Linked DNA regions of Homo sapiens: region 2 is linked to region 1. The links come from fine-mapping of genetic effects on gene expression. A gene starts in region 1. The other region holds a variant in brackets. All regions are shown on one strand. Distances are between the middles of the regions.

Region 1 (15,517 bases):
TTGTATGTGTATGGTGTCTACACACATGTTGTCTGCACACATGGTGTTGTGTGCATGCACAGTATTGTTTTACATGACGCCATGTTCATCACCCCAGTTCTGAGTCAGGGAGGAGAGAGAATGTGGCAAGACTGTGGTTTGGGAGACACGAGTCCTGCAGTCTCATAGGAGAGGTGTGAGGGCTGCATTCCTGCAGGAATTAAGGTCACCTTCGCCTGCACCCGAAACCCCTGGATGGGGGTACAGCTGCGTGGCTTTGTCCAGGCTGTGTCTAAACCCAGTGTGTGCCCCTCACAGTCACCGGCACAGTGGATCCACAAACAGCCTTTCTCAACTCAGTCCTGGGTTAACAAGCCTAGCCCTTCCTGAGTCCCCTAAAAGGATTCATTTTATTCTGGAATTAGACATGAAATGTCTGTATTCAACTGAAATTTAGCCTTTTCAAAGCAAACAGAAGCCATAAAACAAAATGGCACAAACAGCATTGTCTTTTCAGGTTAGAATTTAAGCGAGAAACAGATTTTCAAAGCTGCTACCCTTGGGCTTCTCCCCGGGTCTCTTTCCTTTGGGACACTCCACTCCTGTCTCCTGTCTTCCCTGTCTGGTCTCCTGAAAGACAAATCAGTTTCTAAAGCTGCCTGAGGGGCCGGGTGCAGTGGCTCACACCTGTAATCCCAGCACTTTGGGAGGCTGGGATGGGCAGATCATAAGGTCAGGAGTTCGAGACCAGCCTGGGCAACATAGTGAAACCCCCGTCTCTACTAAAAATACAAAGTTAGCCCAGCCTCTCAGGAGGCTGAGGCAGGAGAATCGCTTGAACTCAGGAGGTGGAGGTTGCAGTGAGCCGAGATCGCGCCACTGTACTCCAGCCCGGGCAAAAGAGTGAGACTATGTCCCAAAAAAAAAAAAAAAAAAAAAAAAAATGGTGCCTGAGTCTCCCAACCCATGTCTCAATAAAGAAAAGGCAAAATACTAACATCCAGTGATCTTGTAGCAAAATGTCAACTGTTTCCAAACGTTTTCTGCCATGAGCTGAAGTGCCACTCCCAGTTATCAGGGCCCCGGGAGAGGCTGAGAAGGTGCTGGCCCTGTGCCCTGGAGGCTGTGGCCAGGTGACACCTCCCGCCATCCTGCTGGGCCCTGAAGTTGGCTGAGTGAGCCTCAGGGCAGAGACATGTCAGATGTGCCTTCGGCCACACGGGCCTGCACCAACTTCCCACACTGGCCTAAGTGCTTCCTCACACTTTGCTGGTTGCTCCGTTTAATCCTCTGTGACCTTGTGAGGGAGGAAGGCCCTGGGAGGGAAGCCACTTCCCCAGTTTTCCCAGGGAGTGGGGGTAGGGAGCTGGGAATGGCCAGCTGCATACCCGAGCAATGGCCGAGCTCTCTGTGCGAGGCCGCCCCTCCCCAGGCCTGGCACACACACACACCTGCTAAACGCTTGCCAAGTGACTTGGTGATAATGCGCTGGCAACATGGGCTTGTCGTTTCAGGGCCATGGATGCCACCTCTCCTATGTGTCTTGTAGAGCGCTAGACACGGCTACTTCCTGGTTCAGAGTCTGCTCTCGTGCCCTGTTCAGAGAGGCTCACCCGGAAGGAGGCAGCCCCAGTCAGAGAGGCTCACCCGGAAGGAGGCAGCCCCAGTCAGAGAGGCTCACCCGGAAGGAGGCAGCCCCAGTCAGAGAGGCTCACCGGGAAGGAGGGACCCTGTTCAGAGAGACACACCCGGAAGGAGTGAGCCCCGGTCAGAGAGGCTCACCCGGAAGGAGGGAGCCCTGTTCAGAGAGACACACCCGGAAGGAGGGACCCTGTTCAGAGAGGCTCACCCGGAAGGAGGCAGCCCTGTTCAGAGAGACACACCTGGAAGGAGTGAGCCCCGTTCAGAGAGACACACCCGGAAGGAGGCAGCCCGGTTCAGAGAGGCTCACCCAGAAGGAGACAGCCCTGTTCAGAGGCTCACCCGGAAGGAGGGAGCCCCGTTCAGAGAGACACACCCGGAAGGAGGCAGCCCGGTTCAGAGAGGCTCACCCGGAAGGAGGGAGCCACACAGGCTGCCCCGACCCTCAGACCTGTGCTCACTCTAGCAGCAGAGCCAGGGTTTGCCAGACCACACAGCCCCGTGGCTCGTGGGGTGAAGGACTTTTCAGTGCAGCTTACTTAAAGCTGCCAAACGTAGTTCCATTTGTAAAAGTCTGCCTGTCTTTGGAAAGCATGCTGAAGAGCCCCTGCACACTGCAATTGTTAGGATACCTGCAGGCCACCGTGATCTCAGCAGTCAGGGAGGATGCTTACGAGCACAGGGGCCAGATTCTCTGGTTCCCGTCCAAGCTCTGCCACTCGCTGGGCTGTGTGGCACTGGGCAAGCGCCTGAACCTCTCTGTATGTCAATTTTTTCTCCTGTAAGATTGTGATAAAATCAGCCTCCACGGTGATGTGAGGAGCATGTGTGGAGGATAACATGCGTGAAGCAGCTGGAACAATGCCTGGTACAGAAGTGCTGTGGAGTCAGCACTCACCATTGTCGTTTTGTAGAGATGGAGTCTTGCTATGTTTCCTAGGCTGATCTAGAACTCCTGGGCTCAGGCAATCTGCCCACCGTGGCCTCCCACAATGCTGGGATTGCAGACGTGAGCCACTGTGCCCAGCCCTCACCATTGTTAACACAGCTTAAAGACCCCCTTCCATAGGCTACAATTTGTTATTTAAAGAACAAAGATAAACTTAAGTGAAATTTCGACTTTGATTTTTAGTGAGTTGAAAAAAATCTGCTTGCTTTGGTTTCTAGAGGGGTAAGCTGTAGGGACCAGCCCCACAGGGTCGGTGGGTCTCTCCCTGTGTGCAGTGACGAGAGAGTGTAGAAATAAAGACACAAGACAAGAGATAAGAGAAAAGGCAGCTGGGCCCGGGGGACCACTACTACCAATGCACGGAGACCGGTAGTGGCCCCGAATGTCTGGCTGCACTGTTATTTATTGGATACAAGGCAGAAGGGGCAGGGTAAAGAATGCGAGTCACCTCCAATGGTAGGTAAGGTCATGTGGGTCACGTGTCCACTGGACAGGGGGCCCTTCCCTGCCTGGCAGCCGAGGCAGAGAGGGAGAGGAGACAGAGAGAAAGACAGCTTATGCCATTATTTCTGCATATCAGGGACTATTAGTACTGATAGTACTAATTTTTCACTAATTTACTACTGCTATCTAGAAGGCAGAGCCAGGTGTACAGGATGGAACATGAAGGCAGACTAGGAGTGTGACCACTGAAGCACAGCATCACAGGGAGACGGTTAGGCCTCCGGATAACTGCGGGCGAGCCTGACTCATGTCAGGCCCTCCACAAGAGGTGGAAGAGCAGTCTTCTCTAAACTCCCCTGGGGAAAGGGAGACCCCCCCCCCCTTCCTGGTCTGCTAAGTAGCAGGTGTTGTTCCTTGCCACCTTTTGCTACTGCTGGACCACGATCCGCCTGGTAACGGGCGTCTTCCCAGACGCTGGCGTCACAGCTAGACCAAGGAGCCATCTGGTGGCCCTGTCCGGGCATAACAGAAGGCTCGCACTCTTGTCTTCTGGTCACACCTCACTATGTCCCCTCAGCTCCTATCTCTGTATGGCCTGGTTTTTCCTAGGCTATGATTATAGAGCGAGGATTATCATAATATTGGAATAAAAAGTAATTGCTACAAACTAATGATTAATGATATTCATATATAATCATATCTAAGATCTATATCTGGTATAACTATTCTTGTTTTATTATACTGGAACAGCTCGTGTCCTCTGTCTCTTGCCTCAGTGCCTGGGTGGCTTGCCGCCCACAGTAAGCAATTCCAGGGGTGATCTTGGATGCGTATTTTCTCATGACCCACAAACTAGACGCTGCAGCAGCACAGTGAACCCTCCCTTCCAGTCCACAGCTGAGGACCCTGAGAGCTTAGAGCAAACTTACTTCCTCCTTAAGAATAGCGCCCCATGGTGGCTCACGCCTGTCATCCCAGCACTTTGGGAAGCTGAGGTGGGTGGATCACTTGAGGTCAGGAGTTCGAGACCAGCCTGGACAACGTGGTGAAACCCCGTCTCTACTAAAAATACAAAAATCAGCCGGGCGTGGTGGTGGGCACCTGTAGCCCCAGCTACTCAGGAGGCTGAGGCAGGAGAATCACTTGAACCTGGGAGGTGGAGGTTGCAGTGAGCTGAGATCACGCCACTGCACTCCAGCCTGGGCGATGGAGAAAGACTCCGTCTCAAAAAACAAACAAAAAACAGTGCCCTAAACGTCCGTAACCCTTTTAACTGTGTGAATTTCGTGTCCTGTTGGGCCGATCTCCGTCGGTGCACTTTTGGAGTGTCCTGTGCCGCTGCCCTCCCTGCGGGCCTGGCAGGACCAGACCCACAGCCATGGACGCTGCCATTTACAAAACGCCCACCAAGTGCTACCAGAAATGGGACATGCAGAGCTGGTATGAGCGCACACACGGCATCAGACGCCCAGAGGAAGCCAAACTCAAGAGTGAGCTCCAGCCGTCTACGGTGAAAACAAGCCGGAGCTGTGTCCCACAGGTGTCTGTGTGTGGGGTGCACCTGTTCTGGGCTGCGGGGCACAAGCATGGGGTTGCTGGTCCTAAGGGCACACGAGTGGCCGCCTGGAAAACCAGAAGCAGGAGCTCCTGGACGCCAAGGCTGTGAACAGTCGGACGCCTCCCCGTCTCCAGCAAGCCGGGAGCCTTATCTTATCGCCGGCGCTTCAGCTCTCCCGTTATTTAGGGACCGGCCACAGGCTCGATGGCATTCCTCTGCTGTGAGCACAGAACTAAACTGGGCACGTCCATGGCAGATGAACAGAATGGTGGAGTGAACGCATAAGTGAGATTTCATTGACTTAGCTGCAGCCCTCAGATTTTAATTCTGCCATGATAAACAGCACCCACGGGGTTTTGAAGAGCAAATGCCTCGTAGGAAAGCTGGACTGCATGTCTGTGCACCTGCCATTTCCCTGAAATTCATGCAAAAGCTTGATCCTAAAATCAATTTGCTACTTAAAGGTATTTTAAGAAGCTTTGTCTCCAATCTCGTCCAATCAAGTTTATGTCATTTTCTTAGAACACATTTGTGTATGGGCAACTCTCCAAGCTGAACCATTTTGGGAGATGATATTCTAACTTTAATTCATTGGAATTTAGAACTAATCCCCAAACAGTATTAATGGGTTCACATTTCAAACTGGCTTATTTTACATCCCTTTGTAATGAATTCAGAACAAGAAGGCTTAATCTCTGCAGCGAGAAGTGAGCCCTCACCCTACTCCCACCAGCACGGCCGAGAGAGGCTTCACTGGCTTTAACTCTATTAGAAACAGAAGGTGCTAGGCCTAGTTAACGCTTTACAAATACAAGTGAAAAGTCACGTTTAAAAACTGAATCTTAATAACTGCAAAGTAAAGTAATACTGTCACCCTCAGAGAAACCACAGGAGAAACGTGATCTGCCGCATATCAAATTTGAGGGACACTCAGATTAAATTGCCACTTTTAGCAGCGGTATCAGGTAACACCATCCGCTGAAGGACCGCACTGCCTTCAAAGCTCTCGGAGGCTTACTGGGAGAACTCGAGCAGCCAGTGTTCCCTCCAGCCCGCACACCGGAGCGCGGTGGGCCCAGCCTACCTGTGGTGAGGGCCTCGGCGGTTGCGATGTGCATGATGGTGTTGTCACTCACGGGCCATTCTCCTGGCGAGAGTACGAGGTGGTCCAGGCCCCCGGAACGTTGCAGCTCCTCCTGGATCTTCATGCCTACAGTGCTGTTCTCCTTGCAGACATTTCTGTAGCCAAGAGCATCGCCGACGCTCCCCAGCAACATCGCAGCCTTAAATTTCTCCATCCCAGGAGGCAGCTCCTCTTCCCCAACAGCTGCGGAGCGTCCTGGCCTTTGTCTCCTCCTCAGCCCGCCTGACTTTTATAGTGGTCACTGTGTCACTGTCAGGAGCGTCCTCTGATGGCCAGGCGCTCCTTGTCTATCTCTGCAGGTGGCACCAATGAGAGGACCTTTCTGTCCCCCACGTGGGAGGTGTCAGTTTTCTTCTGCGTCTGGACAGGCACCAGCTCCTCAGCAGAGGAGCCTGCTAGCTTCTGCCGGCAGCCGCAGCACATTCAGAGCGTTGACAGAGCAGGGGCTCCTCTCGCTGTCCCTGGAAGGAGTGCGCACACTTCCCCGTGTGTGGCGTGGGGTGATGCGGGAGCAGATGTGTGCAGGCGTGCCTGTCACTGCCGCCCGCTGCGGGGCGTGCCCTCACCCCTCGGGCAACAACCCATCTGCTGTCTCTACAGTTCTGCCTTTCCTGGACATTTCAAATACAATGTGTGGCCTTCGGTGTCTGGCTTCCTTCACTCAACATAATGTTGAGATTAATCTGTGACATGCGGTTTTATCATTTAGAAAACTTTTCGATTATGAAATGTGTTTTTGATAGAAAACTTTTAAAAAATGCAGTGTAGAGGGAACAAAGTCTATCTAGCTCCTGTGTGAACAATGACGGTGTCTTCTCAGCATGCGGTGTTTAACGGCTCCCAAATAATTGGACTGCACTGAGGGGGAAAGTCGTCAGCAAACCGCAGGCTTCACTAGAACCTCCCATCCGGCCCTCGGTCAGCTCAGTGTATTTACATCATCCCTGCTAGCTCATGAAAAGAATATTAAAAAATATGGAGACGGGGGGTGAGGCAGAATGCACACAGCCAGGGTTCCTGGTTTGAAATAAATTAGGAAAACAGTCCATCTCCCGACCCCACCCCAGGACAGTTCTCCGCAGAGGCCGGGAGCCCAGCAGGGCTGTGTCTCTCCCGTCTCCTTCCTCGGGGCCTGGTTTCCATCAGACCCAGGGGAAGCAAAGAGTTACACCTGGACTGAAGAAATGCGTCTGATAAAAACTCTCGTAGTGTACAGCGAGACAGTAGGAAGCATTTAACCGCCTGGCGTTATATCAGCACTTGTTAAAACGGAGGATCTCAAGCAGTGAGTTCACCTCACCCTCCACTGTCTGCTGGTGGAGGCAGCCATCAGCACAGTCATGCCAGCTAGCATGATCCTGAGATTCAGAAACAAACTTCAAAACCAGCATGCAGGCCGGGCGCGGTGGCTCATGGCTGTAATCCCAGCACTTTGGGAGGCCGAGGCGGGCGGATCCCCTGAGCTCAGGATTTTGAGGCCAGCCTGACCAATATGATGAAACCCCGTCTCTACTAAAAATACAAAAATTAGCCGGGCATGGTGGTGGGCACCTGTAATCCCAGCTACTTGGGAGGCTGAGATAGGAGGATCACTTGAACCTAGGAGGCAGAGGTTGCAGTGAGCCGAGATCACGCCATTGCACTCCAGCCTGGGCAACAAGAGCAAAACTCTGTCTCAGAAACAAACAAACAAACAAACAAAACTCCAAAACAAAAAACAGCATGCACGCAGGGTCCCTATCCAAACAAGACAGACAGGAGGGGCGGCCCTTCGTTCAAACTCTCACCTGTTTTAGGCACAACTGCACTGTGGGGCCGAAGCGTGTGCTGCTGAGGGGATTAACACAGCCCGCTCGCTGAGCGCTTCAGTTCGCAGGCGGCGGAAACCTTTGCCAAGAGCACTAGCTGGCTCCCTCAGCAAACAGGACGGGATAAGGTTAGCTCGTTTATCCAACAAATATTTGCAGAGCCCCTACTTTGTACCTGAAACTGTGGACACAGCAACAAGGATCAGAAGAAAGTTTATTCTTGGCCCCAAGAAGCCTGAGGTCTAAAATGGATATAAACTTCAAGCGAAAATAACACAATGACATGTACAATGTCACTGAGAGGAGCTGGCGTTGTTGATTCCGGAACGCTGGCAGGTGCACCGTGAATCGGCAGGTAGCACATGATCCTCAGACCCCCGTGCTTGGCCGTTTGCCTCCGATAAGGGACGGTTTCCAGCAGTTTGTGCTGGCACACATGACCTCCTGCCCCGACACACTCCCGTAAATCCTGCCTATTGTGAGATCTCTCATTCCTCACATGAGCCACCCCATCAGGTGCACGGTGCACCGCTGAGAGGCAACGCAATGACAGAAGGTACCTGAGGACCTGGTTACCTGGCCAGGGCTGGCGGGCCACACACGGGGGCAGGGGCTTGCCCGCTGGTTGCTAGCTGGGGGCTGTTCTCTCATCCTGGGACAATGACGTGGATGCTGACACCTATAGGCAGACATCCCTGCAGCTGAGGAGAATCGAAAGGAAACCACGCCCGAGAAAAACCAATTTAATGCTTCTGTTCTCAGCATTTCACAGCATGCAGGACTCAAATGGATACAACAGAAGAAAAAAACCCACAATTTTTGGAAAAGCCTTTGTCCAATGATTAATATTTTGATATCTATTGACAATCCCTTAGAACTTTAAATCTCAAAAACAAAAAAGTACTGTGGATCTCCATAGTTTATACAGAATTATGTGAATTCTATAAACTTTTCTGAACAAAACAATTACATGTCAAGAATCCATGAAGCCTGGAAGATACGCTCACGTTTTTGAGGTTTGTATTAATGCCAGTTTTTATTGTATTAGACAAATGCTCTCTGAGAATCGAAGACTTCTAAAGGTAGACAGGCCCAGTTTCCCATTAGAGTTCTGGAAGCAGAGCCTGGGGAAGGTCTGTCACTTGCCCATCACTGGACCAGCCAGAAGCCAGCGGGGGCCAGGCGGGGTCTGCAGGCTGCAGGTCCCTTCCAGTCCTGTCCCTGCTGCCCTCTGTGACCATCTCTGCTAAGAAACATCGACAGTTCGTCCTGCAGCCTCCAAGCACACTAACCTCAGCCATCAGATGTTCCTGAAGCCCAGGGTAAGTCCTGTTCTCAGAAGCCAACCCAGCTGCTTGTCTGGGCCATGCTCTCTCACACCGCAGCTAGGTCATCTGCGGCGACTCTCCTCTGTGCTGGGCAGCAGCTCCAGCTGGTCCACGTCCTGCACAGTGCTGCAGGGGGGCAGCAAGGCACGCCTGTGACATGAGAGTCTCGGCACGTGAGGTAGGGTCAACAGTGATGTCCACAACTCAATACCAGCCCTCCACACCTCGGCAGCACTCGTGGGTCCTCCTCAACCAGGCGGACACGAGAAACAGATGATAACATGGTGCAAGGACAGACTTCAGCTCACCAATCAGATGAAGGTTTTGGGGTTGGGTTTTTTCAGACAACGATGTACATTTTAGCTTCCAAATGTGCACAGGGGCACAAAGGTCTGGATGCTGGGCACTACGGGTACCACAAGAGGATGGAAAGAACCAGCTCATTCGGTTTTATTGTATGTATGTATGTATTTATTTTGAGACAGAATCTCACTCTGTCGTCCAGGCTGGAGTGCAGTGGCGCGATCTCGACTCACTGTAACCTCCGTCTCCTGAGTTCAAGCGAATCTCCTGCCTCAGCCTCCTGAGTAGCTGGGATTACAGGCATGTGCCACCATGCCCGGCTAATTTTTGTATTTTTAGTAGAGACAGGGTTTCACCATGTTGGCCAGGCTGGTCTCAAACTCCTGACCTCAGGTGATCCACCTGCCTCGGCCTCCCAAAATGCTGGGATTACAGGTGTGAGCCACCACGCCCGGCCTTGATTTTAAAATCTATAATTCATCACTCATAAAATAAATGTTTTTCATGGAAAAATGTCTTTTTAAATGTAATTAAAATATATTTTAAAAAAACATACTTTATGAAGCTTCTCAGGCAGGTCAAATAATATTTAAGTAAGAGAGGCCCAGTGATATATAAACGGTGTGAGATAAACTCTGCTGGAATCGTGCCACGTGTGCCGTTGCTATGCAAAGCTACATGGGGATTGAGAACCATAAAATGATTTTCAGATGAATGTCTAGAGAAAATGAAAACAAAAATAGAGCTGGTAAATCTAGATATTTGGTAATTCAAAAAATATAAATCGTGAATTGCTGGCACCAATTTTAAAAAACATTAGACTCTACGACAAGATCCTCTCCCTTAGGGCACATTCTTAACAGCTTTGACGTGTATAAAAACGCAGCGCCCTGCAGAGGACACATGCCGTGTTGCCAGTGCCACCGCAACGTCATTCGGCGGGACGCTGCCGGACGCTGGTTCGCCTGACGCGCGAGCTACGCAGCATGCTCTGCGGTCCCACAGGCGGCGCTATGGCTCTACCTTAGTATTTTGTAAATATTAAAAAATCATGCAGAAATTTCCTAACGCAAAAGCTATGATGACAAATCTCCAAACATCCCAAAGCAGCCGTGTCCCGAGGAACTTCCTGCGGTGTCCACAAAGCAGCCGCTGGCTGTCCTCCGGCAGAATGGGATGGCGCCTCTGGTTTCATGGCTGGTCAAGAATGACTTCTGGAATCAGCGACAATGCACCCAGGAACTGACTGCAATCTCCTTGCAGGATACAAATCATTTCATAATCTTACTCCTGCTTAACTTGCTGCCTAGAAAAGGCTGCGTTTTCCACCTGTGACTACTGGCCGTGCATATTCTACAAAATCATCTATAAGAACGGGCCAAGCTCCTAAAGGAAAGCAAGCAAACAGAAAACCCGTTAGAGCACCGTTTTTATCTCCAAAGCACTGAGTCACACATCAATCCAACATTTACACTTCAAGAACCCAAATGACTTGAGGTCCACACCATTTGTGTTTCACAGAATGAACCAGCCCAAGTTACCCAGTTCTTTCGCCCTAGCACGGCCAGGTCGGGAGCCCTGGTGTGTGTGTGCTGGCATGTCTAGGGGGCTGTGGGCTCACAGTGGCCCCGGATGCTCGGTGAGTGCCCCAGGCAGTCACACCAGCTGCTCAGGAAGGGAGCTAAATGGACCCCCGCGGAGCAGGAGGCATGTTCCTCAGGTCATTGGTATTCTTGCCAGCAGGGGGTGCTCCCTCCTGCGGCTCTTCCCAAGTGGGACCACCCCATTGCTCCCTTCCCCACCCCGGCAGCCCTGAGTGCCCTCTGAGCTCCTGCACTGCTGCCTCAATCCTGGAAGCCGCGCTTCTGTCAATGAGATTCAGTGATCCCTTCTTTCATTTGACAAGCATTTACTGGGTGCCCCTGATCTAGGGACGGTGCAAAGTGTGGAGGACACAAAGAGAAGCAGAAGCTAAAACAGGCAGACAGACACGTAAACCACCCGTTAAAGGCACGGCGCCAGGGCCCAGAACAGATCACTGCCCGCCGAGGGGGCAGGGAGGAAGCAAAGTGGGTGGGAGCCTAGAGGGGAGGCCTTCCACCCAGAGACCATCCCTCTCTAAGGTGGCAGCGTGCCCAGCACACAGCAGGCTCCAAAGGCCCTCCAACGCAGAGTCCTAAACACGGGGGGAGACAAGTATGTGGAGATATATTTATGCAAGAAGACAGGAGCTGGAATCTCCGAGTCAGCCTGAAGAGTGCAGTGTGGAACTGACCTAAGGCATCATGCGGGACTGAGAATCTGGGAGTGGTGGTTTCCCAATACCTAACTCCATGGCTCCACCATGGGGGTCTCTAACTCTTCACATCCAATTCTGAAATGCTTTGGCTTAGAGGACTGTCTTCTTGATTTACACTAAATATAAAACCCTATTTTTCTTTTGTATGATTTACAGAAAATAATAAGGAAGGGGGTAGTATTATGACCACGCCCATCTCAGTGACGGGGTCACCACTCTAGAGGCAGGAGAAGTTAACGTTCTCAGGTGTAAGCATTTCGGTCAATCATCTGAAGCACAACTTCCGGTACCTTCTTCATCGTAGTTAGACATATCATCCGCAATCATGTTTCCAAAGTCCAGCAGGAGGTTCCAGGTGTCCCTTGGAATTGATCTTTTGTGATGTTCCTAATATATGAGAGAAAAAAAAAACCCACCAGGTTTAAAATACAGAGCTTAACTCTCATATATTCTAGTGGCCTAGCGATCTTCAATTAATGTTCATTAATTTGATTAGGAACAAGTACAATAAAATTGTTAAAAGTAATAGCGTTCTGTATAAATGTTAAGTGCTACAACAACGCTAATGTCCAAATATAGAAAGCAGATTTATTTAAGAACAAAACATTTTAAATATTACAATTATAAACTCCTGTTTTGTCACATAGAAGGGCAGCATTTTAATCTCGTTACCTGCCCATTAGCTGCATGTATATATATATTCACGAACAGCTCATAAGCTTGTCTTACATTTTAAAACATTAACTGCTATCAAATTACACATAGTTTTCTGCAACTTGTTTTTTTCCCACTCAGCATAATGTCTGAAACGTATGCGGGCTGACGTGTGTGAATGTGCGTTCCTTTGCGTGGCTCCAAAGCCGTGCTCCATCGCACCAATATTCTGATTTTTTAGTCCGTTCTCCTGTGGATGGTCACTGGCTTTTCCAGTATTCTGCCGTTACAATGACACTGTGAGCGCCTTCATCCCCTTCTCCACGCACAAGAGCGTGAGGTTCTCTGGGAAACATCTGTGACTTAGGTTTGACCCCAGGTAAGGCGTAAGGGGGCTGTGGGCACAGCATTACTGACCTCTGGATATTTCGAGAGAAGTAATACAGCACATGATGTAATGAAACACATAGCTGCAAAGACGTCTCTCCATGGCAAACCCACAGGACTGAGTGACGTCACCTTCCACAGACAGCTCCGCCCTCCACCTGCCACACTCTCTGGGTACCATTCCCAGGCAAGGAAGCGGAAGTGACGTGCCCAAGGCCACAGGACTCTAAGTGGCAAAGTCTGTGTCACCTGGTGTCAGGTGAAGGGAGGCAGTGCGGGTCCTGGCCCGGCCGTGGGTTGGGCGGTGGAAGACCACTTCTTTCACTTTCATGGACAGAACAGCAAGAGGTCTGGGCATCTCTGCCATTACCGGGCTTGTGGCCACTCACTTCCAAAAACCCACAGCTGCACCTGCTGCCAGCAAGACGGGCTGGCATGACGCAGCCTTGCCCCGCACCAGCAAAGTGTCTCTCCAGAGGGTCCACAAAGGCCTCTTTTCCTCCTGAGCATGGTGAGACACACTTAGAAATGGCTTCAGACCACAGACACACACAGAGGCTGGGCACCGCCACATACAATCCGCAGTTCCGGAGCCCAAACCAGTCCACAGAAGTGTGGCGCTGGCACCATGTCGAGGATTCGGAGTTCTCAGTGGAAAGACAGAATTACCGTCTAGGTCCTCAGAGGAGACAACACGGGGGCTGCTGGGGTTGCAGAGTCTCCAGGAACCCCAGCCTGAGAGGAGCTTCCCGTGACTGCCAAGAAGCCACGTTCTGAGGAGGCCCCGGAGTGGCCCCAGCTCAGCCCTGCAGTCTCCGGCAAGGTGACAGAGCCAAGTGGCAACCTGTCTGGACCTGCGGATCTTTGTGTGGGATGTTCATCTGCTGAAAACCTCCACGTGTGAGACCTGAGGTGGATGATTACATGCAGCCTCATACCTACCGACTTCCCTCCACAGTGGGCACACAGCGAGATGCAGGAGGACACTTACCATTAAGAATGTGTTCCAGAGATCTAAAAATTTAAACCTTCCAGATAACACTAATTTCCAATACGCAACAGCCATTTCTAAGTCTGGTAAAAAGAAAGAAAGAGCAGTTAGTAAATCTCACTCTCTTTTTCTACTGCACAAAAAACGACCACTTCTTAGCATGTCAATATTTACTTAATAAAATGTGGCAATCTCACCCAAGAGTCATGAGGCTTAATCTCTACGGAAGTGCTCCTGAGAACTGTACGTAGTCTAATTTTATAAATCTGGGGAAACTCTTTTTAAAAGGATTTGTATATTAAGTTATTTGGATATGCACACAATTCCCCCCTAATTAATCAGTTTTGGAGACTTGCCTTTTCACACATATTGGGTGTTCTTTAAACCTGACCTGATCTGGATACTATTAATGCGTATCATTTGTTTTTAAAAATAGGCCACTGGCCTGAGTGTCGAACTGCAAATCAAAGGACCAGTTTAGGAAGGAAGGGACACACTGTTCTCCAAATAGACCTGCCTTGTTGCTATATGAACTAAGACAGAATCTGTTTCACAAGTAATTACAGCGGCCTTATGAGGGCTCCAATTTGTCCCTAAAGTGTCAAGTCAAATCGGCAGCTAGCAGGGAAAGCGTTCTCACTGATGCATCTACACAGGACACTGCGTATCAATCAAAGCCAACGCCCTCTTTTCCCACACGGGAAGGTGGTGATTATTTCACGACTTCTATATAAATCTCTGCTACTGAAGATGTCTAATAGAATATGAATGCCGAGTTTCAGGGCTGTCTCCAATCCATAGTTTGTGAAACACTGATTTATTCTCTGCTCACCAGAAGCTTGATAACGATTTCTTTTTATATGCTTGACACAGCAAGTATATAAAGGGGTTCAGAATTCTATTTTTTTAAAGTGACCGGCCGGGCGTGGTGGCTCACGCCTGTAATCTCAGCACTTTGGGAGGCTGAGGCGGGTGGATCACCTGAGGTCAGGAGTTTGAGACCAGCCTGACCAACATGGAGAAACCCCGTCTCTACTAAAAATACAAAATTAGCTGGGCGTGGTGGCTCATGCCTGTAGTCCCAGCTACTGGGGAGGCTGAGGCAGGAGAATCACTTGAACCTGGGAGGCGGAGGTTGTGGTGAGCCGAGATTGCGCCACTGCACTCCAGCCTGGGCAACAAGAGCGAAACTCCGTCTCAAAAAAAAAAAAAATTAAATAAATAAATAAATAAAATAAAAAATAAATACATAAAGTGACCTCCTTTAATCATGTTGAATAGTGTTCACCACTTTTAGGCAATAAAAGAAGAGTTATATTTATGTAAGATTAATGTGAAAAGCAGATTAATAAAAGTTAGGTAATATGTTAGTTTAAATGCAAAGTACATAACTAAACACTTCTCAAAAGGTTTTTTTCTAAATCTGGTTTAATCCCACTTAAACAGAAGTTATTAAAGTTGGAGCTGTAGCAAGATTTCCAGGGTCGATCATTATTAAAATGGGATAAGAAAGAGGCATATGAGTAGCAAATCCCACTTTAAATAAAACGCCTCTAAATTCCCCGTGTGCAAAGGCTTCATGACCAACTTTATCAGTTTTGAATACCCTGGAGTCTGAATCAGAAAGAAAGAGAGAGTCAGAAAGTGCCAAGTAACTGAGATATGGAACAGCTCTCTAGACCTTACCGATGGGACCCGCAGTAAAATGCTAAGAAGATGATTAGTCTTGTCCTGCTTATAAGTCTACATCCTTATCACTTAGGAAGAACATTAATTGAAATCTATATTCAACTCATCTTAATGATGTAAAGCTTTCACATTGAGAAATGGAGGTGAACCTGGGGAGGAAAAAAAAATAAAGTTTTATGGCACACATTTAATCTAGTTACTTTGGGTTAGTTTTGGTGCTAAAAACTTTTCTTACAAAGGACCTGATTTGTATGTTTGTCAATCACATTATCAAAAGTAAATATATGCTTTTTCAATATTTATTATTATTTACATAAAAATGTTTAATATTGTCCTAATGGAC
Region 2 (15,517 bases), 54 kb before region 1:
AACACAGGGACCCACACATGTACACACTAAGGAAATGTGGAAACACTACGTGACCTCCGGTGGCAAGGCCATGGCTGGAAGCCCTGCAGCCTCTCCGGCTTCCAGGTCCTGATGCCAAGGCTGCCCCTCCCAGAATCCACGAGGAGGTCACCGTCCCCGCTCCGCACCAGGGAGGGGCTCCAGAAGCCCGGAGGCCAGCGCCGAGGTCCCCGCACGTACGCCTGTGTCCCCGGCTCTGGGGAAGGCAACCGTCCCTTAGGGGGCCGGGAACCTGCGCGCCGCCCCGACTCCCGCCCACCCCGGCGGCTCCCGGCGGCTCCCGGCGGCGTCCGGATGTGGCAGCAGCTCGCGGGCCGGGGCTTCCTCTTGCAGCAGCCGCCGCCCGGGAGGCCGGCAGCGCCCCCTGGCGGACTCAGGCAGGAGGCGTCCGGCGAGGCGGGCGCGGGGTAGGCGGGCGCGGGACGGTGCAGCCCGAGGCCTGTCCCTGCAGGTGCAGGAGGGACCCGTCGCTCCCCTGCGCACCGAGGGGGCGACAACCCCTCCCAGAGACCTGCTGCCCGCGGAGCCTCCCCCAGTGACTCGTGCGGTCCCCAAAGGAGAGGCGGGAAGCCGAGTCCTGGAGAAGCCTGGAGACAATGGGCAACAGGGGCATTGGGCCTCCGTCCAGCCCCCGCCAGCGCCCCAGGGTCACACATAGGCCTTTATTTTCTGATCCTGAAAGTGATGCAAGTGCATTTAAATTAACGCAGAAAGCAGTGACAGATAACGACGGGAAAACACACCTACACATCGGGTGTTCGTGGATAACCACTGCTCACCTTTTTTCGCGTTTCTCTTTCTTTGCCCCCTTCACACGTATTTACATATTTGAATCTACTATTTTATACTGGATTTTTTTTTTCTTTTTGAGGTGTAGCTTCACTCTTGTTGCCCAGGCTGGAGTGCAATGGCGCCATCTCGGCTCACTGTAACCTCTGCCTCCTGGGTTCAAGCGATTCTCCTGCCTCAGCCTCCTGAGTAGCTGGGATTACAGGCGTCCGCCGCCACCATGTCCAGCTAATTTCTGTATTTTTAGTAGAGATGGGGTTTCCCCATGTTGGCCGGGCTGATCTCGAACTCCTGACCTCAGGTGATCCACCCTCCTTGGCCTCCCAAAGTGCTGGGATTACAGGCATGAGCCACTGCGCCCGGCCTTATATTGGATTTTAAACATTAAATGGTACAATATTTTCCATTTCACAAAGTTCTTCCTCAGCTAATTTTAAATGACTGCTATTTCACTGAATAAGACACCACACTTTATTTAACTAATCTCTTTTTTTTTTTTGAGAGGGAGTCTTGCAATGTTGCCCAGGCTGGAGTGCAATGGTGTGATCTCGTCTCACCGCAACCTCCGCCTCCTGGGTTCAAGCGATTCTCCTGCCTCAGCCTCCCTAGTAGCTGGGATTACAGGTGCCCGCCACCACGCCCAGCTAATTTTTTGTATTTTTAGTAGACACGGGGTTTCACTGTGTTGGCCAGGCTGGTCTTGAACTCCTGACTTCGTGATCCGCCCGCCTCGGCCTCCCAAAGTGCTGGGATTACAGGCGTGAGCCACCGCGCCTGGCCAACTAATCTCTTAATTGGTGGACATTTGTGTCACTTATGGCTGTATCTTGAGTAGTACCACGCTGGACAGATTGCTTTTCCTAAATACAGTTTCTCAAAGCTGGAATTGCTGGGCTGAGGAGCCACCCCTTCTAAAGGTTCTTGACATTATTGCCAAATTGCTTTATAAAAAGGAAGGGCCAATGTTTGGTCCCATCAGGAATGACTGTCTCCGTACATCCTCAGAGGTAGTGAGTGTTACCGATTCCTTTTAAAAATTGGGGGTTTTGGTTCTCAACTTGATAGACCCATGAGAGTTCAACTTCATGTCTTTGACCACCACGCACGCAGTATGTGGTCCGATACGGCACGTCCACCGTGGATGTTGATGGGGACAGCCCCGTGTGCTCCAGTATGTGGTCCGATACAGCACGTCTGCTGTGGGTTTTGATGGGGGCGCCCCTGTGTGTTCTTTTTTTTTTTTTTTTTTTTTTTTTGAGACGGAGTCTTGCTCTGTCGTCCAGGCTGGAGTGCAGTGGCACAATCTCGGCTCACTGCAAGCTCCGCCTACCAGGTTCACGCCATTCTCCTGCCTCAGCCTCCCGAGTAGCCGGAACCACAGGCACCCACCACCACGCCCGGCTAATTTTTTTGTATTTTTAGTAGAGACGGGGTTTCACCGTGTTAGCCAGGATGGTCTCTATCTCCTGACCTCGTGATCCGCCTTTCTTGGCCTCCCAAAGTGCTGGGATAACAGGCGTGAGCCACCGCGCCCGGCCCCCTGTGTTTTCTTGAGTGCAGGGGGCAGAATCCATCCTGGGGAATTTGAGCAGAAAGGGACATGGTGAGCAGTGTGACAGCTCCCAGCTCCTTGCAGGACTAGAGGAAAGGCCTCCAAGCCCAGCTCTGCACTGGCTAATGAGCTTCCTTCTCTCAGCTTCCCTGGAAACATCTTTCTCTGCACACCCAGGAGACTCCATATCACCGGCTCGTCCTCACCGTGGGCCCAGAACCTGCTGTGCCCTGCCGGCCTGGGGAGGTTGCGTCTCCCTGGCAGAGCTGCATGCGTCCCAGCAGCAAGGAAGGCTGGGGATGTGGGATGTGGGACTGCCGTGCAGAGAGAAGACAGGATTCATGTTGTGGGGAGCTGTCAAAACGTAGAAAAATAGCCCCACTTTTGGGGCTCCCATGAAAGACTGGGGTCTTATTCATATGTTTGAGCCCCTTTGGAATTTGAAATGAAGCCGAGTTCCCTTCCTAACGACACAGAGCTCGCAGAAGCCGCCTCTTCTCTTGGGCGTCCACCGTCAGCTCTTTCTGGACTTTGTTCTTCCTGTATGTGTGCGGCTTCCTGCCGTTATCAAAGTCCAAGAATTTCATCAGTTTCTTATTTTGTTTTATTTTTTAACATTTTATTCATTTTTTTTTAAGATACAAGATCTTGCTATGTTTCTAGGCTGGCCTCAAACTCCGAGGCTTACGTGATCCCCCCACCTCAGCCTCCTGAGTAGCTGGGACCACAGGTGCTGCCACCGCACCCGGCTTCTTGATTATTTTATCATCATCATTATTGATTGAGCAATGGAAATCTGTAACTTATTTGGTGCTTTTTTTGGGTTCTTATTTCTTCAAGATTTGGAAAATTCTTCCCTACGTGCAGATTTGCTGGTGGGTTGAGCGCCTTCTTCCAGTTGGGGATTAAGACATGACTTCCAGTGGTACAGGCCGTAAGGAAACAGCCATCCAGAGAATTCAACAGCTCTTTCTCCGCTCTTCAATACAACATGACCTGTGGTCTTTTGTTCTTTTATTTTTTATTTTACTTTCATTTTTAAATAGAGACGGGGTCTCACTATGTTGCCCAGGCTGGTCTGGAACTCCTGGTCTCAAGTGGTGAGAAACAAACTCATCTGTCCAAACCCAGAAGAAGGACTCGGAGACCCGGAGGAGAGTGAAAGGGAGACTTTCTTTCTTTCTTTTTTTTTTTTGAGACAGAGTCTCGCTCTGTCACCCGGCTGGAGTGCAGTGGCGTAATCTCGGCTCACTGCAACCTCTGCTTCCCGGGTCCAAGCAGTTCTCCTGCCTCAGCCTCCTGAGTAGCTGGGATTACAGGTGCACACCACCACACTCAGTTAATTTTTTTATTTTTAGTAGAGACGGGGTTTCACCATGTTGGTCAGGCTGGTCTTGAACTCCTGACCTTGTGATCTGCCTGCCTCAGCCTCCCAAAGTGCTGGGATTACAGGCATGAGCCACTGCACCTGGCTGAAAGTGAGACTGTTGATGATGGTCTTGCAAGATCGGGTGTCTGATGGGCAGCCACAGCCAGCACAGTTTCAACAAATAATTTATCCCCTAGTGCACAGGTGTCTCCCCGGGTTCCTCACAGGCTGAGTACTCTGGGGTCACAGTCTTCTGGGACGTCACCTATTGGTTGTTGGGCAGGGGCTGTAGGTGTTTTTTTTAGGGGTGTCCTGTTGCATTTTGTTGCAGCCCACAATGCATTGCAATCCCAGTCAGCCCAGGGGCTCTTCAAGTATTTGACTTATGACCTAAGTAGCTGGGCAGGCTGATAAGAACAGACAAAGCCAGCTATTTTGCAGGCTAGTAAACTGTTATCTTAGACTAAACTTCTTTAGTTCAGGTGAGAGCACCTAAGGGCCGGGGGGAAGGGAGGGAGAAGGGGAGGCCGGCAAGCAGGCACTGGCGATCCAGGCAGGGGCCTCGGACCTCCTGTTTCTTCTGTAGTTTGCTGACTTAAGCCGATTCAAGGCACTTTGTCTTGGAAACGGACCACTGTAGACACTGTTGCCTTCACTCCCCGCTTGGCCTCCTTTGTTCTTCTAGGAGAAGATGCCTCGGCACTTTCACGAGTTTGGGGTGTGCACAGATGGGGCTTCTAGTAGGCTCCTGTGCCTTCGAGTGGCTTCCCAGACACCGCCTGGGGTTGTGGACCTGAGCCAGGCCAGTCCTCTCGCTGTCAGAGAAACGGCGTGCACTGCTCAGCTGCTCAGTCCTGGGCTTTGGGGGCTACGTGACATCCATTCCTGTCAAAAATCCATGGCGGCCATAAAGATTCAGCAAATGCACCGACGCTCAAACAGACAAATGTCCCGGCACTTCCTTTTGTGGTTGGGGCTTTTTCTTCTGTTCAGGGAAACATTTGTCTACCCCAAGCTTATAACAATATCCCAAGAATGGGGTTTGATCAGACTTCTATGTACACCAGTCTCACAGACGCCCTCAATAAGTGCTTTTAAAAGTTCTAGCCGGTCGCAGAGGCTCACGCCTGTAATCCCAGCACTTTGGGAGGCCGAGGCAGGCGGATCACGAGGTCAGGAGATCGAGACCATCCTGGATAACGTGGTGAAACCCTGTCTCTACTAAAAATACAAAAAATTAGCCGGGCGTCTTGGCGGGCGCCTGTAGTCCCAGCTACTGAGGAGGCTGAGGCAGGACAGTGGCGTGAACCCGGGAGGCAGAGCTTGCAGTGAGCCGAGATCACGCCACTGCACTCCAGCCTGGGTGGCAGAGCGAGACTCCGTCTCAAAATAAATAAATGAAATAAAATAAAATAAAAGTTCTAATGAAAGCCTGTGTCATAGCTTAATTGACAGGGGTTTTCTTTCAGGACAAGAGGTGCCTGCACCATCCCAAAGCCTCGGCTGCCGGGCCAGTGCTCTCAGACACGAGGCATCAGCTCGTTTCAGTGGAACAAGCTTTCCTCCTCACAAGATGCCAAGAACCCGCGCCACCCACGGGCACAGCAGGGGTTTGGAATGCAGGCATTCCCAGCTAGGTCTGGCGTGAGCTTAAACCACCCGTTGTTAAATCCTCATGAAAAGTCACTTACAAAGTTCTCCTGCATACAGAGTAGTGGAGGGCAGAGGGTGTCTCACAGGCCTGCTGGGCCCGTTGCACCCATACTCCTTCCCTCCCTTCTGTCCAGTCTCCCTCCGTGTCCCAGAGGACACCCCAGCCCTTTGGCCCCCCGCGGCCCAGGTGCAGTGGCCGAAGTCCAGCTCCCTGGGTCTTGCTCCGAGGCCGGCACAGTCTTGACTGGACCAAGAGAGGGTCTGGGGAGTGCATGGCCTTGTCTCTCTAAGCACATCCTAAGGAGTTCTCCTCCCACTTGGGGCCTTGCCCCAGACCCTCCCTCCTGCCCAGGATCACTGCTCCAGGCTGGCCACATTCACCCGATGGGGGCTCTGCCCCTCGCCCCAGGCCTGAGTCCTACTTCATTTATGCGGCTGCTTCAACAATGCAAGGAAGAGATTTGTAATGGGAAAGGTATTTTATTTCTTTTTGAAATTATTTCCAGCTGAATGATGTTAGTAAAAATACAGAGAGAATACAACAAATGACATTTAGTAATTTTTTCTGACTAACCCATTTTAGGGTTGTTTATATACAAAGAAGAATATGAACAAGAACAAATTTAATAAATAGCTGTAGCCTAATACACAACCGAAAGACCGTAACTCCAACAGCAGAGATACCCTGAGAACAGAATAAGGAGGTGGTGCTGAGCGTGTAAAATCCCAGACAACGACCCTCCCTGAGCGAGTGTCCTGAACATGACCACATTCTCGTCGCCGTCTCGGGACCTTCCTGCCGCCTGAGTGCACCGCCTCCCGCCCGGCTGTTGTCACTTGCACCCACAGACCTGCGGCTCACAGTGGGCCTGTCGACAGCCGGAGGCACCGTAAAAAACTGCAGGGAGGAGGCAGTCAACGAGTCGCTCAACTACACAAAATTAATGATGTTAACTAAGAAGCTAAAATAAATATCCTGTTTTCTTTTCTTTTCTTTTCTTCTTTTTTTTTTTTTTTTTGACGGAGTCTCGCTCTGTCACCCAGGCTGGAGTGCAGTGGCGCAATCTCGGCTCACTGCAAGCTCCACCTCCCGGGTTCACGCCATTCTCCTGTCTCAGGCTCCCGAGTAGCTGGGACTACAGGCACCCACCACCACGCCCGGCTAATTTTTGTATTTTTAGTAGAGACAGGGTTTCACTGTGTTAGCCAGGATGGTCTTGATCTCCTGACCTCGTGATCTGTCTGCCTCGGCCTCCCAAAGTGCTGGGATTACAGGCATGAGCCACCGTGCCCGGCC[A/G]CTTTCTTTCTTTCTTTTTTTTTTTTTTTAAAAAAACAAAACAACTTTGGGTTTTATTTAAAATGCCCGTGGAGGTGGTTAGCGCCCCATTCTTCTGCTGTAGTTATTTCACCCCGGGAGGGTGTGGGCCTTAGCCATGTGGCCGTGATGGTCGTATCTGAAGTGTGAATACTTCCCCGCGCTATCTTCTAACCTGCGCTGTCTCAGCTTAGTGTGAACGTACGGACCGTTCTCAAATCCTGGTGAAGTCACTGGCAGTTTTTTCCTGCACACAGAGTAGCTGTGCTGTTTTTGAGCTGAGGGCAGTGTCATGCTGGGCTGCATCTGGCACATGGAGAGGACGGGCCAGTCGAGCAGGTGGCCTCCTGGCCGCTCACAGACTCTGCGCCCGCCAGACTGTGAGAGGGGTTCAGGCACGACACTTCCGGAGCTGTCATCTGGAGGAGATTCTCATCATTTTTTCCACCACTTAAAATAAAACCACTCAATGCCTTCTCCAGTGTACTCTCTGGTCTATTTAAAAATAGCAGCGCAAGTCCCACCACTTCTTATTTATAAAGGGAACAGCCAGTGAACATATTTTTACCTCCCGTGTCTGTCATCATGTTCTTGCCACTCATTGCCTCCAATTCCAAATAGGTAAAGAGTGAGGGCCGTGCCGCTGTGCCTGGAGTGGCAGGGGCAGCCACACAGACCTGGGGGTCCCTGAGCTCCCCCAGCTCCAGGGAGGACGCCCCAGGCATGAGCAGGGGCCGCCAACAGGACAAAGAGGCCACTCTGTCAGCCTCTGCTGGACCCCTGAGCTCCCCTCTCATGGGCCTCTCCGTTTGGGTGGCTCCGAGAGGCCAACTCCAGCCCCAACTGCAGGCTCCCAGGACTGCAGGGGCAGGGACTCTGGAGGTCCGTGTGCTTCGTGAGAGAGGGGACCCTGTCCTCCTAGCAGGGGTCCAGCGGCACCACAGCAAGACTTCTGTGGCCAAGTACACGCCATGCTCAGCTCTGCCCCCACCCGCACCCCCGGACCATCCTGTGTGCAGCTGGGCTGCCCCGGGACCCACACGCGCGAGGGGCACCCGGTGCTCAGGAGCCTCCACACACAGCAGCTCGCACTTAGAACCCACACGCCAAGCAGAAACCCCTCGAAGCGGGCTGGGAGCACGGACCCCTGATTTATAGAGGAGGCCCCGGGGGCCCTGTCGGGGGAGCTGTGGGGACCGGCCCCCCAGAGCTCAGCACAGCCCGGCCCTCCTTCCAGACACCAGCACTCGCATGTCCCAGCAGGTGAGGGTGGGTCAAACCTGCTGGATCTGAAGTTAATTGTTCGACTGGAAGGAAACCTGTGCGCTCCCCGGAGCATGACGCCACGCCGCCTCCTTGGCGCTGCAGAGCCAAAGCCACTGGCGTCTGCCGGGATGGACCTTCCCTGGAAGGAGAGACCTCAGCCCCGCGTGGGTAGGACGCGCCTGCTGAACGCCCTCTCAGGGCCGACACTGGAAAACACCTTCCTCTAAAGGAACATCCGAGTCAGAAAACAGGTGCTCGCAGCAGGCACCAAAGCGCCTTTGCGAACGCTTAGGGCTGTTTCAGGAAACCGCTCAGTAGCAAAGGCAGAAGATGCCAAGACACCTTCAAAAAGCAGGAATTAACTTTCCACAGGGAGGGCACCACCAAAAACAAGGGTGCGGGGCTGTAGGGCGACAGGCTGCATCGGTTCACGCTGAAAATCCAGCTGCTCCGGGGCCACTCAGGCAGCCGTGTGGCCTCACGGGTCCGGGTTTCAGAGGCCACCGAGTGGCCTGGGACGATGGATCGCGACACGGAGGTGCATGGCTCCATCATGGGGAAGAATGTGCTTTAAAATAGGTGCATGGAGGAAGAGCCTAAAAAATAGTCCAGAGTAGCAACAAAAACCATCTCGAGGCAATGTGACCACAGGTGGCTTTGATTTCCTTCTTGTGCCTCTAGACAGCATTCAAATATTCCAGCCTGAACATGCATTACCTCAGTACCTGAACAGGGCCGGAGTCGTGGGCCGTCTCGGGCCAGGGCAGGAAACACTTCTATGCTGTTCGGGAGGACGGAGGACAGACAGCGAGGCTCTCAGGTCACCGGCACCAGTGGCACCACCCACAGGGACTGCAGGGAAGGGCGGGCAGGCTCCCGTTCGTTCTCCCAGCACCCAGTTTCCAGACGAAGCCTCCCTGGGATCCTGGCTTCCCACGGCTCTGCACTGTCCCTTTCTCAGAACTTAACGTGGGCATTTCCTGAGGCCTCTTCCTCCGGATGAGCTGGTTTCGGCCTGGGATCCCAGCGTCCCCACACCCTCTGGTGACCACCACATGGCCCAGCAGCCACACAGCACCCGGCACCCACCTGGGCGTCTGAGGCTGGAGGAAGCTCTGCCCTTTCTTTCGAGTCATGGGGGTGGGGCGGTGTGCATCACTTTGGGCCCATGGATGGTGGGTGCCATGCGGCCACGTCAGAGCAGGGCATGGTGGGGTGTGGGCAGGGAGCAGTGGGAGGTGGCCCTGTGAGAGCTGGGGAGGTGTCCCAAAGTGCCAGCATCCTGCAGATCGAAGGGGACGCACACACCGTGCCACTGCGGGAGGTGTGAGCTCCACGCTGCAGGCTGTGTGAGAGAGGGGTGAGCCGGCGCCCCCGAGTGAAGACACAAAGAATCCCGAGGGCCTGGTGAGGCCACAGGCCCGCACCTCCCACCCCCATGGCCTCGTGGCTCTGTGGGGTGACAGGAACCCGACCCACATGTAGCTCAATCCTCCCAAGGTCAGCTTGTGAAGAAGGGAAAGAAAATTATGGAAACAGGCGTCTCTGTAGGGGATGCTCCAAGACGCATTTGGAGGCAGGAAAATGCCTGAAGTCCCTCAATGGGCGGATGTCACAGTGCTGGGCGAGCCACGGTGTGTACTCGGGGCCTCACTTTGGGAGCTCAGACGTGTCGCTGGCCCTGACGCTCATTGGTCTGAAGGACAAATCGAAGGCCCTCTGGTCACGGAAGCTCTGGGCTTTGTACTTGGCCAGGTGCCTGGACCTCCCGCGACGCTCGGGCTCCGATGCCTCCATCCTGTCCTGCAGGGCCCTCTCAGCCCCAGGGTGGTCTGGGGACCCCTCCTGGGCCGGGGCCTGGGGAGTCCCGCAGCCCCCAGCCTCAGGCTTGGGCTCAGTTGGGCTCTTTCCCAGCCCCAGGGGAGAGGTGGCAATGCTCTTGCCCCTGAGGGGGCGGCTTCCTGGGGGTGGGTACCCGGCGCTGGGCTCCCCCAGGCCACTGCCCCCTGACTGTCCACCATCCCTGGGGGCTGGGCTTCTGGACCCCCCACTCCTGCCAGCAGCATCCACTCCCTCAGCTATGCCACTAATGGGCTGCTCCCAGGCCCGAGGCGCCATCCCACTTGTCAAGGCCTGTTCCCGACCCTGTTCCCAAGCCCGTTCCTGAGCCCCTTTCTGGGTCTGCCTCTGAGTCTCTATCTGGGTCTGCTCCCAGCCCTGATCCCGAGCCCGATCCCGAGCCCATTCCTGAGCCCCTTTCTGGGCCTGACCCTGAGCCTCTATGTGGGTCTGCTCCCGACCCTGTTCCTGAGCCCGTTCCTGAGCCCCTTTCTGGGCCTGTTCCCGAGCCCGTTCCTGAGCCCCTTTCTGGGCCTGTTCCCGAGCCCGTTCCTGAGCCCCTTTCTGGGCCTGTTCCCGAGCCCGCTCCTGAGCCCCTTTCTGGGCCTGTTCCCGAGCCCGTTCCTGAGCCCCTTTCTGGGCCTGTTCCCGAGCCCGTTCCTGAGCCCCTTTCTGGGCCTGTTCCCGAGCCCGTTCCTGAGCCCCCTTCTGGGCCTGACCCTGAGCCTCTATCTGGGTCTGCTCCTGAGCCTGTTCCTGGGCCCGTTCCTGAGCCCCTTTCTGGGCCTGACCCTGAACCCGTTCCTGAGCCCCTTTCTGGGTCTGTTCCTGAGCCCATTTCTGGGCCTTTATCTGGGTCTGCCACTGGGCCTGTCCCTGAGCCTCTTCCTGGGCCCATTTCTGAACCTCTCCTTGAACCTGTTTCTGGGCCTGTCCCTGAATCTGCCCCTGAGCCCATTTCTGGGCCTGTCCCTGAACCTGTCCCTGGGCCCCACCCTGAGCTGGTTCCTGTGCCTGCCCCTGGGCCTCTATCTGGGTCTGCCACTGGGCCTGTTCTTGAGCGTGTCCCTGAGCCTGTCCCTGGGCCCAATTCTGAAACTGTTTCTGGGCCTGTCCCTGACTGTGTCCCTGGGTCCCACCCTGAGCCTGTTCCTGTGCCTGCCCCTGGGCCTCTATCTGGGTCTGCCACTGGGCCTGTTCTTGAGCGTGTCCCTGAACCTGTCCCCGGTCCCATTCCTGAACCTGTTTCTGGGCCTGTCCTTGGGCTGCCGGGCTTCCCGGCCCCTCGGGCTCCCCTGGAGGCACAGCTGGGTTCCTGGCAGCCCTGGTGCCCTCTCCCCACGCCGTGCTCCGCCCCCGCTCCTCCCAGGGTCCCTGCAGATGCTGCTGACCTTGGTCACTGCGCTGGCAGGCGCCCCCAACCCCAATGGCCATCCCTTTGTCCCCGGCCAGATCCTGTGCCCACCATGTCTGAGGCTCTTTTGCTGGGTTCAGCACAACCTTCGAGCCCGACGGCGCCACCCTCTTCCCCGCATCCCCGGGCTGGGGGGTCTCCTCCTGTGCCTGGTGACTCTGTTGCCTCCCCAGGTCCGCCTGTGTCAGGGGACGCTCCTGGGATTCACCTGCCTGCGTCCTAGGCTCGGGGACACTGGCCCGGAGCTTTGCCTGTGTGTCACCAGCAGTAGGGGGCAGGTGTGCCTGTAGATGGGGAGGGCCCCGCTGGTGGGTGCCACCTACCCACCCCATGTCCACCTCCGCGGGAGGCACTGCGGGAAGCAGATGGTCAGGCTCCGCCCCACGGGGAAACCTGACGCCCTCCCTGCCCTTTGCCTGTGGGTTCTCAGGAGGCGACGGCGGGAGGCCAGGGCCATAGCTGGGGGACTCTGCCACGCTCCTTGCCTGTGGCCTAGGATGATCAGAAGCAGGAATTCCAGACTCTGTGCTGAAACCCAAAAGGTTTCCTTCCACAGCCACATCCTTTCTGCCTCCTACAGCTGCTGTATGTCTGCTGGCTGCTGATGTGTTTGAAATGTATAATCGGGCCGCCTCTGGGTGCCGGGCGAGGGCCGCAGCATCCTCCGGGTGGCGGGCGAGGGTCGCAATGTCCTCTGGGTGCTGGACGAGGGCCACGCCTCTCAGGAGGCTCCTCCCTGCTGCTCCACTCTTGGGCTCCAAGGATCCCCCAGGGGCCAGGAGGCCGTGGCTGTGAGGGTCTCGAGGGAGAGCCTCTCCTCTGGGGTGGCTTTCGGACAAGGCTCTGCTTCCCCACTGGCCCAGCGTCTCTGGCTCTCCCGCTGTGCGGTCTCCAGGGCTCTGGGTGCTGCCTGGCGCTGGTGCAGGCGTGGCGCGGCTCGCAACGCTCCCTGCAGCTGCCATCGCCCCACAGGCTTTCATACCTGGTTTGGGTGGTTCATTTAATGAGGACAGTGGGTTCTCGCGAACATCATGGCTGGTGATTTCCTCGGCAGCCTTCAGGGGCTGAGAAGACTCTATTAGCAGCGGCCTTCTGCATTCCTCCAGCGCACCGGGCACTGTCATGCCCATCGGGGTGACACCCTCAGGCCCCGTACGCCCCTTGGATGATGCCGCCAGTGACGTGGGGGCTCCTGTTGGGTTTCTCCCAGTCGGGGACGGCACTTGCTGGCTGCTGGAGGCATGGCTGGTGTTTCCCCTCAGAAGGTTTTGTGAGGCTGCAGGATCATTTGTTGCGGAGCCCTTCTTCTGCATTGATATTTCATTAGATTCCGGCAACGGATGCTTCACATCTCTGAGCTCAGAGGTCCTCTCTCCTGAAATATCGTCAGGATTCCTGGGACCGTGTGAATTCTCAAAGCTGCCTTTGTTTTCCTTCCCGCCAGCAGGATCTGTCTGGAGTCTCTGTGTCAGAAGTGTCTCTGGGACACTGTGGTCGGCGCCCACAGCCCCTCTTGCTGCTGCCAGACGCGGAGCTGCCCGTGGCCCCTGCGGCGAAGAGGCGCTGAGTCCCGCCTGCATCCCTGAAAGCTTGCTCAGTTCCACTGGGGCTCGGTGACCCCTTCTGTTCTCAGTCACGGTGGGAAATTCTGTGTGGGCATTTTCAACCACATTCTCTCCTCCACAAATACAAGGTTTGTTTTCACCACTTGACATATTTTGCAGCCTGGTGGGAGGGGCTGGCATTTCATGGACAACTGGAATTTGGACAGTTATCCGTGGAGGCTCCGTGGCAGGCTGTGTTCTCCGAGCAGCCTGGACCGATGGAGCGTTCAGGGGTGGGATGTGCTCCGGCACCTTCTGTTCTGGGAAATACTTCTGGGTGGCAAAGAGGGGGTCTCTCCCTGGGTCTGGGAAGCCTGCTCCTTCCCTTTCATCCTCTGAACTGCAAACAGTCATGGTGATTTCAGGGCCCTCCCCTGCACACTCGCCTGGGGGCCCAGGAGGCCACGTGAGCCTGGCTCCCCTCACCTCCTGGACGCCTCCTGCGGTGCTCTCTGCGGTGGGGTCTGCAGTCCCATCACCTCCGGCTGATCCGGTGCCCCAAGGGCTGGCCGGTCCCAGTGGGGATGATGCAGGCACAAGGCCAGGAAGGACTCCACCTGTGCAGGGAGCACAAGAGAAGGCCAGCGAGGGGACAGCGTGGCCGTCCCTCTGAGCCATCACCTGGGGTGTCACGGGCTTCGAGGGCCTTGGCTGTCTTTGGGGCTCCTCCTCCAGGGGCCCCTTTCCCACTGCTTTGTTCCCACTGGGCCCCGTCTCCCTGGCACTAGGGGGCACGCTGGCTTCTCCTCTGGGTGGACGCCTTGCCTCCGAGTGGCTGATTTTGGTGCAGTGGGACAGCCAGCTCCTGGGGCCACAGACGACGGTGGCGATGCTGAGGGCCGGCAGGGGCTCAGCCGTGCAGGCCAGAAAGCGGGCAGGGGGCATCTTGACGCAGGTGCTGGCCATGGTGGCCGTGTGCAGCACGCGCACCTCCGGCCGGTGCATCCTCTTCCTCTGCAGGTTCCTCTTCTTCCGCTCCTGCGTGTGCAGCCTCAGCGCACTGGCCTCGGAGCACAGGCAGCTGTTCTGCTCGAACTTCTCCCGCAGCTTGGACAGCACCGAGCTCTTGCCCATGATCTTCGGCAAGAGGCCCCTGGCGGCTTTGGGCCGCTCCACAGGGGGCTTCTCGCGTGCTTCTTTCTCCTTCGCCTCCTTCTCCTCGGCGGCCAAGAATATCTTCAGGATGTTTTTCACGGTGCTCTTCCCGGCCGGGTGGCCCCAGCGGGGCTTCTCGCTGAGGCAGGGCTTTGGGGCCGGCTCCTTGGTCTTCTCCAGGAGCTTGTTGATGGTGGCACCCACGAGGCCCCCACCCGGCCCCTGCTTGTCCTTGGAGATCAGCCGGCCCACCTCCCTGGTCCTCTTGAGGTAGCGCTCCCGGCCAGTGCCCAGGAACTTGGCCTGCAGGAGCTGGAAGCGCGTGGGCCGCTGGGTGGCCTCCTGGGTCTGGGGCTGGTGGCTGGGCCTGCTCCCCCCGGCCTCTGTCCCCGGGGGCCGGTCTGCGCGGCCCGTGACGTAGAGCAGCAGGCTGCTGAGGATGGAGTGGGCGGCCGGGTCACAGGCCAGCTTGCCCATCTTCTTCTTCAGGGTTTGGGCGTCCACAGACATGACGTCACTGCAGGTCTTGCTGCTCTTCCGGCTGCAGAGAAAAAGGAATCATCACCTACTTCATCATCATTTTTCTCCAAGATGACTCTATAGAACATTTATCATGGGGCAATCCCACCTTTTCAGGGGCCCCAAAAGTCTGGTAGGGAGAAAAAGAGATTAGGAGCCAGGAGCTGTGGCTTCTGGGCTGTCTCTGCTGTTAATTCGGGGTTGGCAGGGATGCCAAAGCTTTTCTGGGTCACTGTTTCCTGTTAAATGGCAGGAACTTCTGACACACGCTCCTCCTAAGGGCATTGAGGAGTTGACATTGAACAGTTTAGTGAAAGCGTTTGGAAAACCACTTTGCATATGCAACATATTAAAAGAAAATTTTAACAAACATACTTTGCTTGTACAGTAGGTAAAAAAGCACATATAAAGAAGTGTCTATTCTCTGTGTGGACTGTGTATGTCTCTACCTTTAAGTATGAAAGATAAAATTAACAGCATATTTAAATTCTGCCATGATCCCAGGGACCTGGGTCCCTACAGCAGAGACTGAAGATTCAGCAAACCGCTCAGGCTTGGGGTGGGCGGAGAAGGCAGAAAGAGTTTCCTCACAAGCTCCTGGGCAGGAACCAGCACTGCAGTGGGCAGTGCCCACCAGGAGCAGGGGAGGAGGGGGCTGCAGAGAGGAAGGGAGGAGGGGGCTGCAGAGAGGAGGGAAAGATGGGGCTACTGAAAGGAGGGGAGGAGCGGGTTGCAGAGAGGAGGGGAGGTTGCAGAGAGGGAGGAAAGAGGGGGCTGCAGAGAGGAGGGAGGAGGGCTGGGATCACTTGGCTGGGTCTCCGGAACCCCTTTCAAAATGGCTTAGAGGAGCCACTGAGGCTGGGGGCTGCCGCCCTTTCCCAGTGAGATGTTTTTCTGCAGGTTCACCAGGGATTCCTTCCCACCAGCCCAGCTTTCAAAGAGACGGGACCAAATGGGTCTTGGCTGGAGAGACAGGGTCTTTGTGATTTGATGGTGTTTTCTGAGCCTGGGTCCGGGGTAAGTTCTGCTCCTGAGCAGCCGTGACCACAGGAGCAAAGCTGGA

The links. PIP is the estimated chance that this variant, and not a neighbour inherited with it, causes the effect.
Region 2: its variant is fine-mapped to the expression of ADPRHL1 in monocytes after LPS (Quach 2016, PIP 0.95).

Annotation. Positions count from the first base shown.
Region 1 is chr13:113,447,569-113,463,085 of GRCh38, forward strand. It overlaps ADPRHL1 (ADP-ribosylhydrolase like 1), which reads right to left and starts at 5,920. Exons shown (of 8, transcript NM_001394807.1): 1 at 5,656-5,920. The coding sequence starts at 5,869. It overlaps DCUN1D2 (defective in cullin neddylation 1 domain containing 2), which reads right to left. Exons shown (of 7, transcript NM_001014283.2): 5 at 13,486-13,568; 6 at 11,744-11,840; 7 at 8,251-10,540. The coding sequence ends at 10,461. RefSeq lists enhancers at 1,591-1,950, 3,952-4,453, 8,450-9,380.
Region 2 is chr13:113,393,745-113,409,261 of GRCh38, forward strand. ADPRHL1 (ADP-ribosylhydrolase like 1) reads right to left here. Exons shown (of 8, transcript NM_001394807.1): 8 at 5,867-14,476. The coding sequence ends at 9,634. Among named protein-coding and RNA genes, the nearest start is that of GRTP1, 37 kb to the left of the region's middle. RefSeq lists enhancers at 1-260, 11,636-12,430, 13,548-14,233 and silencers at 178-527, 538-647, 4,290-4,584. The variant A/G (reference allele first, on the strand shown) is at 6,700.